Linked DNA regions of Homo sapiens: region 2 is linked to region 1. A link means that fine-mapping ties the variant in region 1 to the plasma level of a protein whose gene starts in the linked region. Region 1 holds a variant in brackets. A gene starts in the other region. All regions are shown on one strand. Distances are between the middles of the regions. Region 1 overlaps BIN1 (bridging integrator 1). Region 2 holds the start of GPC1 (glypican 1).

What was found. PIP is the posterior inclusion probability: the model's chance that the variant is causal. The UK Biobank Pharma Proteomics Project read protein levels with antibody pairs (Olink). The fine-mapping took linkage between variants from a reference panel, not from the people measured, so its PIPs are less certain.
Region 2: GPC1 starts here. The variant in region 1 is fine-mapped to the plasma level of the GPC1 protein (UK Biobank, PIP above 0.99).

Annotation. Positions count from the first base shown.
Region 1 is chr2:127,103,052-127,105,551 of GRCh38, reverse strand. All of the region lies in intron 1 of BIN1 (bridging integrator 1), which reads left to right. Among named protein-coding and RNA genes, the nearest start is that of BIN1, 2.9 kb to the left of the region's middle. RefSeq lists an enhancer at 1,270-1,822. The variant G/C (reference allele first, on the strand shown) is at 1,183.
Region 2 is chr2:240,434,363-240,437,363 of GRCh38, reverse strand. GPC1 (glypican 1) reads right to left here and starts at 1,701. Exons shown (of 9, transcript NM_002081.3): 1 at 1,280-1,701. The coding sequence starts at 1,445. RefSeq lists enhancers at 1-328, 2,062-2,638 and silencers at 1,453-1,512, 1,573-2,232.

The DNA of each region.
Region 1 (2,500 bases):
AAGTCCAGGTTTGCCCAGACCCAGCTCCCCAACCCCCCACCCCAGGGAAGGAGGAGGAGGAGGAGGAGGAGGAGGAGGAGGAGGGATTAAAGCCCCAGGAATAGCTGGCTGGGGGCTGGGAAGACTTCAGGTTGTGGGGTGGGGGGGTGGCAGCACAGATGCAGCCACCCCTGCTCCGGGCTGCCATGACTGGGTAATCCATCTGTGTGCCTGGAGCAGGCAGCCCTGGGCCAGAGCCTGCTTCCTTCCCTAAAGGGCCAGGGAGATGAATGGGAAGGGAGGTTAGCTGAGCTGTGTTCCCTGCCCCCTTCCCACTGGTGTCCCACCCCTTCCTGGCTCCCCAAGGCTCTTGGTGTGTCTCCTTTGCCCTGGTTGTCTTTTCTCTGCAGCAGCATCTTTGATGTCATTCTCGGGGCAGTAGGCAAGGGCTGTGTCCCCTCCAAGGAGGTGGTGATGTATCACTGAGCTCCTGAGACACCATCCCTCTCTCTTGAGCCCCTGTTCTGTGGCCACGGGCAGTTGGCTGACAGTTGGTCAGCTAGGCATGCTGGTCTTGGCCAACAGCTGACCTTGCCCATGCCGGGCTTCCTGGGACTGGAGTTGTTTAGTGTTCCAGCTGCTCTCTGCCTGCCGGAGACTAGTTAGGGACCCTCCCCCCATCAGAAACCAAGGCAGCATGACCATCATGACAGGCATCCAGGCCAGGTCTCTGAAAGTAGCCTTCCCCTCCCTTTGGGTTGCAGGCCCTGCTCGCAGGAAGCCCCATGCCTCAACCCACAGCAGCCTCTGCTGTGTGCCTTCCTGTAGAGTCTGTGCCATCATTGGAGGGTCATCCTCAGTGTCTTCTGTTGGTGATCAGTGCCGCCTCTAACTCCCACTGTCAATGAAACTGGAATCCTAGTCTCTTACAGGCAGCCCCACCACTATACCTACCTTGCCTTGGTGAAATCAGTGGGTAATAGGGCAATTCCAGTTTCCCTGTGGCTACAGGAAGGCGTTTCCTGAGCAAGGATGGCAGGAGCTGTGCTGGGAGGCTGGGAGAGTCCTGGCGTCCTGGCGTAGGAAGAAGGGCCCGTATCTTGCATCCACCCTTCACCCCCGGCCTTCCCACATCCACTTCCAGCCCAAACAAACATCCAGACTGTGAGGGTGACAGTGTGGTCAAGGGCAGCCTGCACTCTT[G/C]TAGGGTCCCCAAGCCAGCTCTTTTTTGACTGTTGTTACCTGTTGACCCTTCTGCCTCCACCACTGGTCTGGCTGATCCCTGAGGGCACGGCAGGGCACATCCAGGTGTGTGCATTGAGGATGTTACCTGGCCCCAGTCGGTGCTTAGTGAATGTTTTTGAACAAGGGATTTGGGCCTGACGCAGGCTGATGGTGGATTGATTTGTGTTGTTTGTTCTCTGCCATCACTCATTCATCAAATCCTGCCTGGACACAGGCCCAGTGCCTCCTGGGCTGAGTCCCCGATGCTGTCTCAGGCAGGGTGCATGTGTCTGGCCTGTCTGGAGCTTTTTCTTGAAGGTCCCATGGCCTGTGGCCTTGGTGTGAGGAGGGTATGAGAATAAATTGGAAGGGTTGCCAGGGCCTCCAGCATGGCACCATTGCTCCTGGCCCCCTGGCCACTGCCCCCGGAATGCGTGGGGTGCACTGTGTGTGCTGGGAGCTTGAGCCTGTGGGCGCCGTGAGGTCATCTTCCCATTGCGTTTGGCTTGTCGAACCCTCTATAAATGATTGTGTCCATTTTTGGGCCTCAGAAGAGTGGCTAGGCAAAGCCAGTGTAGGGTGGAGCCTGGGTCAGATGACGGGGAGGATTAGAGGTTGGCAGGCTGGGCCCCTCGCGGGATGGGGCGCCTGGGGAGAAGGACAGCTGAGGGGGTGGGGATCTGGCCTGCTGGCCCCTGAAGGCCCACGGCTTGGGAGTCCTCATGGAGCCGGCCTGACGGAGCTGGGCCTTTCTCTGACCACGCTGGGCTGACAGTGAGCACAGGAGGAAGGCTCTGGCAGGGTGGGAGTGTGCATGCTGTCCCTCCCTCCCGGCAGGTCCTGAGCATGCTGGAGGGGTGCAGGCTGGATAGTGGGGAGGGCCAGCTGGGCAGAGGGAGGGCCCAGGGTTGTCAGTGCCCAGCACAGCGCTGACATGCCGAGAAGAGGCTCGCTAAAGGAAGGTGCAGTGGTGGCGATTCCTAGAGCCTTGATGCATGGCCATGAATTGCACTATGCTCAGCTGCGTGGTCAAGGTCTCCTCACGCAGTAGCCACCTTAGCCTCCTCCGGAGGAGCCAGGCCTGTACACCAAGCGTTATATTTGCAGCAACCTCAGAAGCAGCAATGCTACACCTGAGAGTGGGTGCATGGTCCCTGTAATAGAAAGGACAATGGGGGCATAGGCAGGCCCAGCCACCTGCCCAAGTCACCCAGGCCCTCAGTGATGGCACTGGGAGCCCACCCAGAGGCCCTGGTCTCCTCACCTTGGCCACTGACTTTGCAGGGGTCCCGCCCCC
Region 2 (3,001 bases), 110 Mb before region 1:
CTGGGGGCATCGGGAGATCCACCAAGGGCAAGGGGCTGTCTGTGGGTTCTGTTCCTCCTGGAGGGGCAGGGGTCCAGAGCCCGACTGCCTCCTCCCACCACTCCGCCCCCCGCGGCAAGGCATGGCCACAGACCCCCCTCACCCAGATGCACGGATCCTTCTTGCTCAGAATCCCCAGGACCATGGGCATTTCTGCGCTGAGTCCCCATCTGAGTAGCCCTCCACCCGCACTCCCACTCCCCTGGTTTCAGAGGAGCCCCCCAGAGCAGGAACCTAGTCTGTTTTGTTCTTGCCCACTGGGTCCCTGGCACGCGGTACAGACCGAGGTTGGTTCCCACACGTGGAAAGGTGAAGCTTGGGTTCCAAGAGTTCCTTAGCACACGGAGCCCACCGTTCCACCCACCCGTACACTTCTGTCCCCAAAGCTCCTCCGGGACCACAGGGAGGGAAGAGGCAGAGCCGCAGGCGGCTGCAGGGCTTAGGGGGCGCCAAGAGGGCCGCTGTTCTTACAAAGAAATGACACGGCCCCTGGGCGGGATCCAACGCGCCGACCACCTGCAGCTGGACTCGCGGCACGAGGCTGCCCAAGCGCCAGGCGGGGGCCGGCGCGTACAAGTTCTTCGACAGGAATCTCTACGAGGCGGCGGCGTTCCGCCCGCGGATAAGTGCCCAGCTCCCTCCCCACCCCTCCGCACTACCCCCCGAGGGGGTCAGCTTATAAAACCCACCTAGGCTGCCTTTGCTGGAGACCCTACGAGAATCCCCGGGCAGGACCGGAGACGCCTCCCAGAGAGGTCTGTACAGAGCAGAAGGGGTCCGCGGCCACCGTCAGCGGCGCCCCGAAAGCCCGGCCACGCCGAGCCCCACAGCGCCCCGACAGCCGGCCCCGGGGCTGGGACTCCCGGCCTGCAGGCGCGCTGGGCCGAGCGGCGGGCAGAAGACGCCCAGCTCCAGCCGTGGCCCGGGAGGAGCGCCCCGAGCCCGCAGCCCGGCGAGATCAGCTCCGCAGGGAAGAAGCCGGCGTGCGGGGGGCGGGGAGGGGCGGAGGACGACCGAGCGGGGCGGAGGAGACCCTGGCGAGGGAGTGCGGCGCGGGGCTTGGAGGCGAGGGCCGTGGGGTTGCAGAGGAGCCGCAGCGCAGGGAGCCATTCGGGGCCCGGGCGGCGGGGCGCAGGCGGCAGGATCCCGCGCCGGGGGCGAGTAGCCGCGTCGGGAAGACCAGGGTCCGGAGCCCAAAGCCCGGCCAGGCCCGGGTTCCCGGCGCCGCGCCCTCACTCACCCGAGATCTCCGCCTGGGGCACGTCGCTCAGGCTGAAGCCCTTGGCTCCGTAGATCTGGCGGACCTCGCCGCAGCTCCGGCTCTTGCTGGCCGGGTCCCCGCGGGCGCAGGCGACCAGCGCTGCGGCCGCACATAGCAGCCACCAGCCTCGGGCCCGGAGCTCCATGGCGGGGCCGGCGGCGCCCCCGGCCACCCGCCCGCGCCTCTCTCGGATCCTGGCCGGGTCCTGCGCAGTTCCCGCCCGCGAAGGGCAGAGCCAAGGTCCCGGCGCGCGCGGCTCGCGGTCCAGAGGCGGCGGCGGCCGAGGAGGCGGAGACAACAAAAGCCGGCGGCGGCGGCGGCGCGGGGCGCGCGGGGTGCGAGGTCCGAACGCTCGCTCGGGCAGCCCAGAGCGCGGCGGGCTAGCGCAGTCCCGGCTCGGCGCCTCCCCCGCCGCCGGCCCGGCCCCTAGGCGGCCGCGGGAGAGGAGAGGGGCGGGGCAGGGTGGGAGCGCAGGGGTGGGGGAGGGACTGGGAGCACCGGGCGGGGCGGGGCGGGGCGCGGCGCGGGGGCGCGGGCCGGGGCGCACTGGGCGCTCCTCTGGCTCTTAGGGACCCAGAGGGCCCGCCTGGCCGCGCGACTCTATCGATCCCCGGCGGGAGGCGGCGGAGCCGGGCAGCGCGGGGCCGCGGCCGGGGTCCCCGAGGGCGGCCCCCCACGCCCAGCGCCCAGGGCGGTGGCACCACCTGTGGGGGCGGGGACGGGGGCGGAGGGTGCGCGAGGCAGGGCTTCCCCCGCCGGACGTGACATCACGCCTCCCGCGCCCCAATCAGGGGCCTCCCCGCCCCCAGCCGAAATCGGCATCCCGCTCCCCGCTCCCTCCCGCGCGCTCCGGCTTCCTGCACCCTGGCAGCGCGCCCCGAGAACGCTCTCCCGGCGCCTCCGTACCCTCCGCCCGCCGGCCGCGCCTCGAGCCGCCGCCCCTCTCCCCGCCTGCACCCCGCAGCGGCTCCCTCCCCGCGCCCTTCCAGCCGTCTCGCGCTGGGCTCCGGCTCGCACCGGGGGCTTTTGTGGTGTGGGGGCTGCACGCAGGAAACTCGCCAAGAAACTCGACCTCACCTCTCCCAGTCCCAGGGAGCGGCAACAGATGGCTTAATTGTTGGACCTTGACAGCTGTTTTGGGGGGGTGACCCTCCACGTTCTTTGGATGCTGGAGAAACCAAAGTGATGGGGCAGGGCCGGTCTACTGGTTTGGGCTGCTGGGTGGGGCCAGATGACCTCTGGAGAAGGGATAGGGTTGGAACCCGGCGACTAGTTAGGCCACTGGGGGAGGAGGGTGGAGTGAGCCGGAGCAGATGCCTCTTTGAAGAAGGCGGGAGGGCTGCCTGCACCTTGTATGGTAGGAGGGCGCGTGGCTTTAGCTGCACATGGGGAGTTGGGCTGGATGGGGTCTGTAGGGAGGGGGCGAGGACTGCGATGTTGGTGTCTGGAGGGCTTCACTCCTTCCTTGGCTCCCAGACCCCCCACCCCGGCCCCCTGTTCTCCACATGGTAAGGCCTGGCGGTGAAGCCAGGTGCCTGAGCTGCAGAATTGGGGGCAGGCATAGAGGTCAGTATCCTTGGCAGAGAACCTCAAGATGACCCCCATGTACAGCAAGGGTGTCCTGATTTCAGGGCCTGTGGCATCACCTGGAAGCTGCAGCGGGGTCCGTGGTGGGGGTGGTGGCAACATTCCCTACCCCTT